Regions from separate parts of the Homo sapiens genome. Here region 2 is linked to region 1. Evidence: fine-mapped expression QTL. A gene starts in region 1. The other region holds a variant in brackets. All regions are shown on one strand. Distances are between the middles of the regions. Region 1 holds the start of MYLK-AS1 (MYLK antisense RNA 1). Region 2 overlaps MYLK (myosin light chain kinase).

What was found. PIP is the estimated chance that this variant, and not a neighbour inherited with it, causes the effect.
Region 2: its variant is the best candidate, but not a certain one, in a credible set for the expression of MYLK-AS1 in whole blood (TOPMed, PIP 0.68).

The regions. Positions count from the first base shown.
Region 1 is chr3:123,582,274-123,587,647 of GRCh38, reverse strand. It overlaps MYLK-AS1 (MYLK antisense RNA 1), which reads right to left and starts at 2,135. Exons shown (of 4, transcript NR_121654.1): 1 at 2,095-2,135; 2 at 1,847-2,001. It overlaps HACD2 (3-hydroxyacyl-CoA dehydratase 2), which reads left to right and starts at 2,595. Exons shown (of 7, transcript NM_198402.5): 1 at 2,595-2,775; 2 at 5,319-5,374. The coding sequence starts at 2,621. RefSeq lists an enhancer at 2,111-2,410 and silencers at 2,471-3,080, 3,091-3,270.
Region 2 is chr3:123,630,427-123,635,800 of GRCh38, reverse strand. The region is part of intron 29 of MYLK (myosin light chain kinase); the gene reads left to right. MYLK-AS1 (MYLK antisense RNA 1) reads right to left here. Exons shown (of 4, transcript NR_121654.1): 4 at 4,980-5,305. Among named protein-coding and RNA genes, the nearest start is that of MYLK-AS1, 48 kb to the right of the region's middle. RefSeq lists a silencer at 185-479. The variant G/A (reference allele first, on the strand shown) is at 3,360.

The sequences.
Region 1 (5,374 bases):
TCAACCAGTCCTGTGGCCTCCACCCAGAAGCAGGCTCAGTGCAGGGGGACCATTTTCCACACCCCTATAATTGCATTCCCAACCAATCAGCAGCACCCATTCCTCCAGCCTCCTGCCTGCCAAACTGTGTGTGTGTTGGGGGGGGGGTGGGTGTTTTGTTTTGTTTTGTTTTGACTATAGCTCTCAGATCTTAGCCAAACTATTCTTGAAAAACCCTACCCTCTGAATTTTGGGGGAGATTTGGAGTAATAACTCCATCTCCAAGACCTATCTCATGTCAATTAAATTCTTTATTGCAATGCCATGGTCTCTATGAATTGATTTTGTCTGTGCAGTGGGAAGGAAGAACGTATTGGGTGATTACAGTGTCATGGATTTAAATACCACCACCACCCTCAGAACTCTGAGAAAAGATAATACCTCAAACAGCTCTGAGCTGTCTGAGCTATGTGAAGTATGCAAAAATTTATCAGGCCCAGAGACAAGAGTTTGCCTGGGGGCAACTGTTTAGACATTTTGTTCCTGACTAGCAGCCTCACCCATTATCTTCATGTTCCTGGAATCTGTGATACAAAGAATAGTTTATAGCCAATCAATAGCTAATGTAATTTTAATGTAAATTCTTAGTAAACAACTTAGAAGCTGCCTCTTTTTCCTTTAAAAACCCACTCATAACCGCTGCTAATCAGAGTGTATATTTAGGGTAACTTGAATCTATGCTCCCAGGTAGCCATCTTCAACCTTTATGCTTGAATAAACTTCCTTTAAACTAGATTCTTACCTTTTTTATTATTTTAGGTTGACAACTCTCAAATTTATATCTCTAGCCCATTGGACTTCCTTCCCGAACCTCAGGGTCTAAATTTAATTGTCTATCCAGCCTCTCCACTTGGATGTTTAATAAGGATTTCAAATTCAACATATAAAAAACAAAATTCCCGACTTCCGCCTTAAAAATGGTTTCTTACAAGTTGCTCAAAACGCCTTTGACCTCACACTCCAAAACTAACATATCCACAAATCTTATAATTCTACTTCTAAAATACGCACAGAATTCATTGTTGTTTTCATCACCTCGATTTCCACCACTCTGGCCCACACCACTATCACCATGGCTGGATTATTGTAATAACTTCCTGATACCACTTTTCACCAACTAATACGAGCATTTTCGTCTGGTTCCCTCAGGGGTCCTTAAGCCCCAGGCTGCGGATAGAACCAATCCCTGGCCTGTTAGGAACCAGGAGGCACAGCAGGAGGTGAGCAGCAAGCAAGGGAGCATTACCTCCTGAGCTCCGCCTCCCTCAGATCAGCGGTGGCATCAGATTCTCATAGGAGCGGGGAACCTATTGTGAACTGCGCATTGGAGGGATCTAAGTTGTGTGCTCCTTATGAGAATCTAATGATAAATGTAATGCCTTTGAATCATCCTGAAACCATCATCCACCCCCCCACCACGAAACCGGTCCCTGTTGACCAAAAGGTTGGGGGCCGCTGCTCTATATAATCCCTGGGAGACTGACGACTTTGTCTCTTTCACTTAGTGCCATGAACTCCAGGGCAACTTTGTGGACGCTCCATAAACACTTGCTGGAATGAACCCATAAATATTTTATACTACCACATATACAGTAATACATTTAAGGAGCTGCTTGGGTGTGTAAAAAATTGCAGGGGACGTTTACAAATAAAGAACCTCCTGAAACAAAGCAATGAATGGAAAGTGGGATCAGCTGGTTGAAGCAATGCCCACAAGCTGCTCCAGCTTCCCAAAGCAGAGAGGTTTTCCACCTAAGCCAACATCCTTTTATTTTTAGTCACTATAGCTATAAATCTACTCCCTTACCCCGCACCTCACTCTCAGCCGACAGCCCAATGGGCTTATCCTCCTCTCGCCCTCACGATGAGCGAGTCCACGCGGTCTCAGGCTGGAAGATGCACTTGAACACCAGCCAAGCACTCACGGACGACACTGGATTCTAGGCCGCCTGGGCTTCTCCACTGTACTAGGAATGTAAAATCAAAAGTCAGAAAGAAAACTTCGGAGGTGGAATCTCCAACCCGGCAACGGGTTAGGAAGCAAAGCGCACCTACCAAAGGGCTGGTCCCTGCAGCCTCAAGGGCTGATGGGAAGTGAATCCACCGTCAACCGCCCTGATCCAAAATGGCAGGATACCGGAGCAATAGTGTTCAGGTGTGAAGATAGGGCAATTGAAGAAGGGAGAACGAAAGCATAATTGTTTTGATTCAACATGGAAGCAGTGATTATAGGAGGGCGAATAGCGAGGGACGACGCAACATCCAGCTGGCAGAAGCAGCGGGCCTGGAGAGGGTGGCTACATTGAACTAATCCAAGATGGCGCCGAGGTTGTAACCGGGAGCGCCCAAGAGGCGGGAATTACCCTGATCCAAGATGGCAGTGGCAACTGAGGCAAGCCGAAAGACGGGAGCGCCAGGAGCGTCTTTGCCCTCAGCCAAGATGGCGGCTGCCGTGGACCCTGTCCCGGCTCCGCCCCGCGGCCCTGGCCCCGCCTGCCCCTCGTCCCTTCCTCCGCCCCCTCTCCTCGCGTAGTCCGGCCCGAGCCGCTCGCGCTAGGAGAGCGGGCTTCGGGCACTTGACATGGCGGCAGTGGCGGCGACTGCAGCAGCGAAGGGGAATGGGGGCGGCGGTGGCAGGGCCGGGGCCGGGGACGCCAGCGGCACGCGGAAGAAGAAGGGCCCGGGGCCCCTGGCCACGGCGTACCTGGTCATCTACAATGTGGTGATGACAGCCGGGTGAGGCTGGGGCTCGGGGAGGCGGGGAGCCAGCGCGGCCGGGGAGGGAGCCCTGCGGCCAGCGGCGGGGCGGATAGGATCGGCGCGGCCCGCCGCAGGCAGTGCATTCCCGGCGGGGGGTGCCCGGGACCCGGTACCTGGGCGCTGAGGGCGGCCGAGCGCTGAATCGGCCCCGGTGGCTGCCCGCGAGCTCCCTCCTGCGCTGGGGGTCGAGCCAAGTTCCCAGGCACTGGGGCGCGGGGACGGCTGCCGGGCGCTGGCTCGCGAGGGCCGCGGGAGGAAAGGTGGGGCTGGCCACAGGTGCGGGGCCGGGGGCAGCGGCCGGACTACCTGCGGCGCGGAGCCCGTCCTGGGCGGCCAGATTCGGATGTTGAACGGCGCCAGCATGGGGAGTGGAGGAGCTGTGGCTGCAGAGTGACCATTCATTTGGGCGGCTGTTTTCAAAATCTGGGCTGCGCTTTAATCTGAAAGGTATTGGGAAAGCGTTCAAAGTTTTTGGCCAGCGACATGAGCAGAGCTAGGCTTTAGATGAGTTTAGACTTTTAGGATGGGTTGGGGTGGGGAAGAAACTGGGGAGTAGAAGGCAGAGTTACTGGAAAGGGGGAGAATGGACCCTCGAAACGGTTTTACCCATCTTCTGTCTCTTTCATTTCAGTGCATCCCTTATCCCGGCGGGTTTTTAGTTCAAGCTCTGCCACTAACTAGCTGTGTGACTTTGGATAAATCATCTTATTTCTCTAGCCTCCGTTTTTTCATTTGTAAAACTAAAGGGTTGGTCTGGGTGATGAAGGTTCCTTCAGCTCTGCAATTCTTTATCTTGTCATTTTGGTGAGGAGGATCACAGCATCAGACAGTTATATATTTTTAAGTTATCTTCATTTGTAATTTTTTAAGAAGTCCTAACATTTTATTATGAAAAATTTCAAACATACAGAAGAGTTGAAAGAATTGTATAGTGAACATCCATTTTTATTTAAAGTAGGTGATACATTGTTAGGGTTAAAAATGAAAAACATGAGGGAATACAGTGAAAATCTTTCCTCCCACCTTTCCCTTCTACCCAGCTCCCCTCCCTCGAGGCAGTTAATTTTGTGTATCCTTAAGATGCTGATGCAAGCAAATATGTTTATACATCCCCCTATCCCTTTTTAAAATAAGACAAATGCCAATATATTAATATTTTTACAGTTCAGCACCTTGCTTTTTTTTCACGAAGAAGAAAATATATCGTGGGAGGATCATATATGTATTGCTAGTATTAGAAATGGTAGGTGTTGGAACCTAGGCTCAGAGAAGTTGTGACTTGCATGAGATCATAGAACTTGTTAGTAGAAGTTCCAGATCTAGAAATCATTTCTCTTGACTCACAGGTCAATGAAGAACTAGTACAGATACAAGCTTTATATCACATCAGTGGTCACATAGATTGATTTTTAAAAAAACATCCAGGAATCTCACTGTGTGTATTAATATTTATATATAAAATTCTTGTTGTCTTAGCAAGAGCCGGTGAGGGCATTGGACTGGAGAGGGATTTTGAGGTACATTGGTAAGAAGAAAGAAGTCTATTCCTGAGCAATGAACATAGAGAATGGGGTGGAGGGTAAGGAGTGGTATCTTAAACCAGGAAGATAAATTGGGATTGTGAGAGCAAAGTAAGCTTTTTTTTTAAGGCTGTTAATGGTTGTACCAGTTACACCATTAAATAATTTCTTCTTTTACAAACTCTTACTTGATGTCCTTATGTGATAGTTTTTGGAAATAGCATAGACCACACACACCCCATTGCCTAGTTGATACTATACATTTATCTAAATCCTTCCAGGAGACATACCTTAATAAAAAGGTCCATTTGTTTTATTATGGAACTTAACAAAACATTGTGTTTATTTTTGAGAAGGACAGTGGAACAAAAATATAACATTCACAGCTGTATGCTTAAGTGCTTTCCTGTTTCGTGGTTTGTATTGATCTGGCTTTCATTTCTGCATTGATTTTAGGAAATTTGGCTAAAAAACTTTTTTTTTTTAGCAAGAGCCCTTTATTCGTAATTTTAAAAGGATAGATTTTAAGGTATGGGTAATTGTTCCAGTGAGACAATTATAACAATAGTTTAAAGCATCTTCTTTCCACCCTGTAATTATTAAAAACCCTTTAACTGCACAGGCTGTTTAAAATTTTCCTTTAACTGTTTTTTTCTCGTCTTAGATTTTCTTGGCACCTGATTTAGTGGCACAAGGACCATTTTAGCTTATTCCTTTCCTTTTGGCCTTGATCTCAATAGCAAAGTTGCCAAAAAAATGAGCTCCAGATGGGTGAGGTGCCACTATGCTTTCACTGAGCCCTCTTGGTAAGGTGCTGTCGGTGTTGCAACATTTCAGTGCATTACAGCTTGGCATTTGAGAGCTATCGTCCATAAATCCAGGTTACTCATGCTTGAGGTCACCTTTAGCAATATCTTTTATTGCCACAGCTGTGTGTTAACCTAAATGCTACTTTTTTTATTTTTATTTTTTCCTGATTGCTGTTTTCTCTTTTACTAGGTGGCTGGTTATAGCGGTTGGTCTGGTCCGAGCATACCTGGCTAAGGGTAGCTACC
Region 2 (5,374 bases), 48 kb before region 1:
TTCACGTGTTTCAGTGAATATATTTGTACATTTCTGTTGGATATATAATCTAGAACTAGAATAATTGGGTCATAGGGCACTTTATTGTCAAATGAGAGTTCTTTTCGGTGGAGGAACATAGTAATTTGGGCACTATGTTACCTTGTTTACCAGATTACTTTTAAAGCAAAGACCAAGAACTAGGGCAGAGTTTTGGAAATGGGGAGAAGATAGTTTTGATGCTGCCAGTGCTTGGGCAGAGGGTTGTCAGGAGGGAGGAGGGGTGTGTGTGTGGCAAGGACCCAGGCCAGGTGGCACTGACTCAGGCTGGATCAATCCTGTGCCACATCTTAGCTCCTGGACCCCCACTGTGAGCCACTGCCCTCTGGGGCTTTTCCAGCCTGGCTCTCTCAGCATGGATGGAAGTCAGGGAGTTCCCCCGGCAAGCCAGGGCTCTCAACAGAGAGCGGTGCTGAAAACAAACATTGGCGCCAAGGAGATGGTTTCCTTTAAGCGCCTGCTATGCAGAACTCTGGAGCCACTGCTGGGAGCACCCAAAAGAGGCTCTCTGGTGGCCCTCATGGCATCCTCTGGCCCACTCTATCCCTCTCTTTGGAGCCTAGTCATCTGTCGGGCAGTCCCTGTCAGGGCGACTTCCACCTTTGTACCACAGAGCCCCTCCTGTTCTCCTTTCTGGGGCCAGTGAGAGATGGAGAGGCCAGGGAGTTGGAAGGGAAGGCAACAGACCGTGTCACCATAGGACGATGTGACTTTACTCTCTCCCACCCAGCCCAGCCATCAGGGCAGTTTCTGGCCCTATAGGGAAGGAGCAGAATGGGGTCGTGGAGCCCCCACACTCTTACCCCGGATCCTGAAAGGAGATAGTAGGTTGTGTGAGTACCTAGAGACCTTCTGAAGTTAGCAATACCCATGTGGTTTCTGGCAGGAAGTGAGAATACCAGAGAGCTGGAGGCCACACTTCCATACGGGAGAAATCCTAAGTCCACCTCCGTTTAAGAGCCCTCCTCCCCCTGCTGTCTCCCTCCCCTACTTCCTGGACTTGGTACTTCCTTGCTGCCTGTGGGGAGGCCACAACAGCTCTTCTCCGAGCCCTTCCCTCACCCTACTCCACAATGCCTTCTCTCCCAGCCTCCCTCAAGCCAGAGCGAACCAGCAATGGCTGCTCTGCTTCCTCCTCCTGCCTCTTCCTGACCAGGCCCAGCAGCACAGCCTTCCCATTCATGCTTGTTTGTTTGTCCAACACCCACCGTGGTGCAGACAGCTGTCAGCTGTCCCTCCCCACCCTGGTGTGTGGTCGGGAGATGCCAGGAGGGAGGAGAGGTGTGTATGGTGGGGAGGCAGGTCAGCTCTTCTGGTGACAGCTGCCCAGTCAGCTGAGGAGGGGTCACAGTGCCGGGGCATCGGGGGCCTCCTCAGACCAGGGTCTGACTGCAGGGCTCCTCAGCCAGATCCAGTAACCTCTGCCTTCCCCACCTGGGGCTGCCGCTGCCCTCTCTGCTGCTGAGCCTGGAAATACGCTCTGATTCCAGCCCTAGGATCCCTGTTCCCTCTCCAAGCCCGGCCACCACCTTCAACTTTTACTAACACAACTAAACCCCAGGTCGCTGCTTCCTCGGCCAGTCCACAAAATGATGCACAGCTCTTCCTGTGGACCTACTCAGCCCTCTCAGCTCTCCCACCAGAGTATCAGATGGCTAATATGGATAAAAGACTAACCCCTTCCTAGCAGTCAGTAGTTCCATCAGCAGATGTGTGGTCCCCTTAGCTGGCCACTGGTACAGTCGGGGCATCTGTCTGCTGCTTGAAACACAACACAGAAGCCAGGTGCAGTAGTGTGCACCTGTGGTCCCAGCTACTCAGGAGGCTATGATGGGAGGATCACTTGAGATCAGGAGTTCAAGACCAGCCTGGCTGATATAGCGAGACCCCCATTTCTTAAAACCCACACACATACACGCACACACACACACAGAAAGTGTAGTCCAAGAGGCATTTCTGCACCCTCTGCTCTCCTAACCTTCTGCCCCCACAGCCAAACAGGCTTCCACATCAGATTCCCTGGGGGAATTTCTTTGGCAATGAGCTGAGAATTAAGAAATTAGAATGCCCTGCATTCATGACCATTGTGTTTCATCAGCACAAAGACTAATATTTGACCACTAAAAATCAACATGTAGAGTCTGGCTGTACTTGATACATCCAGTGAAGAAAAAGTAAAGCATCCAAGGACTTGCCCAGACTGATTATAGTTTTGTGAAAAACAGATCAATCCATTAGTTAAAAACTAGATAAGACCAGGGAGATAAAGAGGTGTTTTAATGCTAACATTATTTGTTGACCGGTTGATTTTTTTAACAAATAATGACTGTTATCTAGCTGGGCGCAGTGGCTCATGCTTATACTCCCAGCCCTTTGGGAGGCCAAGGTGAGTGGATGGCCTGAGCCCAGGAGTTTGAGACCAGCCTGGGCAACATGGCAAAACCCCATCTCTGCAAGAAATACATAAGGTAGCTGGGCATGGTGGCGTGCGCCTGTGGTCCCTGCTACTTGGGTGGCTTAGGTGGGAGGGTCACCTAAGCCTGGGGAGGTTGAGGCTGCAATGAGCCATGATCACGCCACTGTATTCCAGCCTGGGTGACAGAGCGAGACTCTGTCTCAAAAAAATAAAAAGAAATAATAATAATGACTATTTTATAAATAAAAAGACAAGGCTGGGCACAGTGGCTCATGCCTGTAATGCACTTTGGGAGGCAGAGGTGGGAGGATTGCTTAAGCTCAGGAATTTGAGACTAGCCTGGGCAACATGGTGAAACCCCATCTCTACCAAAATACAAAAAATTAGCCAGGTGTGTTGGCGCGCACCTGTGGTTCCAGCTACTCAGGAGACTGAGGTGGAAGGATCGCTTGAGCCAGAGGTTCAGTGAGCTGAGATCGCACTACTGCACTCCAACCTGGGCAATAGAACAAGACCGCATCTCAAAAAAAAAAAAAAAAATTAAAAGACATGATCCCTTATGCAAATTCTGCCACAAAGAAAAAGTTCCCCAAAAAGGTTTTTAAAAATCCTGTAAAACCCCACCACCCAGCAACAGCATTACTGAAAATTCAAACACCCTCTTTGTCAACATGCTGTGTATGTATTATATTTTTTATTCCAGACACATGCTCTTTAATAGGAAGAATGCTGGGGGAACTTGGGCAGGCAAGGAGCCAGGCAGGGTGAGGAGAGTATTTCAGATGGATAGGCTGCCAGGAAGGAGGAGTGCCAGAGGCCAGAGGCGAGGAGGCTCTCCCTGACTGTGCCCAGAGTTGCAGAGATTAAGACCTATCTTTGCAGGATTATAGTTCCTAATAAGGAA[G/A]GGAGGTTTGCAGAAGGGGAACTTTCTGCATTCCACAGCAGGGTTGTTTGCTTTTCCTGCCATCTTTTGGAGTACTGCCGGACTTCCCCCCTCTCTGTTTCCAGTGGAAAATGTAAAGAAGCAGCAGGTGGCTGACAGGCAAGAGACAGGCTGCTTCCTGATGGGGCTTGCATGGGCCACGTGGGGGTCGGGGTCACAGAGACAGAGAGAGCTGGGAGGCCCCTAGGAAATCTAGCCTAGTCCCCTTGATGTATAAAAGGAGAAGCTGGCTAGGCGCGGTGGCTCATGCCTGTAATCCCAGCACTTTGGGAGGCCGAGGCAGGCAGATCACGACACGAGGTCAGGAGATCGAGACCATCCTGACGAACACTGTGAAACCCCGTCTCTACTAAAAATACAAAAAAAATAGCTGGGTGTGGTGGTGGGCACCTGTAGTCCCAGCTACTCGGGAGGCTGAGGCAGGAGAATGGCATGAACCCAGGGGGCAGAGCTTGCAGTGAGCAGAGATCGCACCACTGCACTCCAGCCTGGGCAACAGAGCAACACTCTGTCTCAAAAAAAAAAAAAAGAAAAAGGAGAAACTGAGGCCCAGAGAGGGGAAAGGAGCAGCAGATAACAGTGCAGACTCGGGGACAGGTAAATGCCCACCCTTCCCTCATGGGGACATGACCGAGAATGATTCTCTTTGCCTTCTTAAAACATAAATCAGGGTCTTGCTTTAAAAAAAAATCCCATCCACAAAGATCTATTATTCAGAAACACAAATATGTTGATTAGGATGAGACAATTCACATTGTAAAAGCTTTCTTCTCTTTACAAAAGGTTTCACCAGAGGGTTCCTCCCATGGCAAGCTTTTTCTCCCAATATTTCAAGTGGGGTTTGTTCTGTCAAACTCAACCAAAGCCTTACTCCTGAAGCTGTCAGTGCTTGGCTTATGATGATGGATTCATAAGCATTTGGGAGAAGGGACATTGGTAAAGCCCTAACTTGACAGGTTGATGGCAGGAGGGCCCCAGACCCATCTCTCTTTTTTTTTTTTTTTTTGAGATTGAGTTTCGCTTGTTGCCCAGGTTGGAGTGCAATGGTGCGATATTGGCTCACTGCAACCTCCACCTCCAGGGTTCAAGCAATTCTCCTGCCTCAGCCTCCCGAGTAGCTGGGATTACAGGTGCTTGCCACCATGCCCAGCTAATTTTTGTATTTTTAGTAGAGACAGGACTTCACCGTGTTGGCCAGGCTAGCCTCAAACTCCTGACCTCAGGTGATCCATCCATTTTGGCCTCCCAAAGTGCTGGGATTACAGGCATGAGCCACCACGCCTGGCCCCCAGACCCATCTCATGGGGCTCAGCTGAGATCAGGGCAGGAACAGCTACACAATTTGCAACATGAAAGGTGGGGCCACTTGTTCAAACCTTATTGAGAATCTTGAGACGACAGCAGCAGAGCATTAAACCAAGCACAGGGCCTGTCTAAGGGTGGGACTGTGGGCAACTGTGCTGGTCTAACACCCATGAGGCTGACTCACAAGGCCCTCATGAACAGTGGGGTGAGTTGTTGCTATGAAGGTGAGGTGCACAGAGGTGAGAGGTAAGGTCAGTAAGCCACAAATCTGCTCTATTTTGTTTTGAAATTCTTTACCTTATAAAGTTTATTTGGCTTAAGCTGCTGGTCACAAAGTCATTCCTGCACTCACAGCTTGGTAAGGCAGTGGAGGGAACCCAGCAGAACTGCATGAGATCTCCGGGCATGGACCGCCTCCTTACTGTGGACCAGGCCTGGTGCCAGTGCTGAACACTGCAATTTACTTCATCTTTACAGAAATGTTAGGATAGTATAGCATTTAAGAGGACAGGCTCTAGAGGCAGATACCTGGCTTCCAATCTCACTGGCTGTGAATCTTTGGGCAGGTGACTTGAGCCTGGGCTGTGCCTCAATTCCCTCATCTGTAAAACAAAGTTATAAGAATTACTTGCATCATAGGGCAGTGTTAAGATTAAGTGAGTTCACTTGTT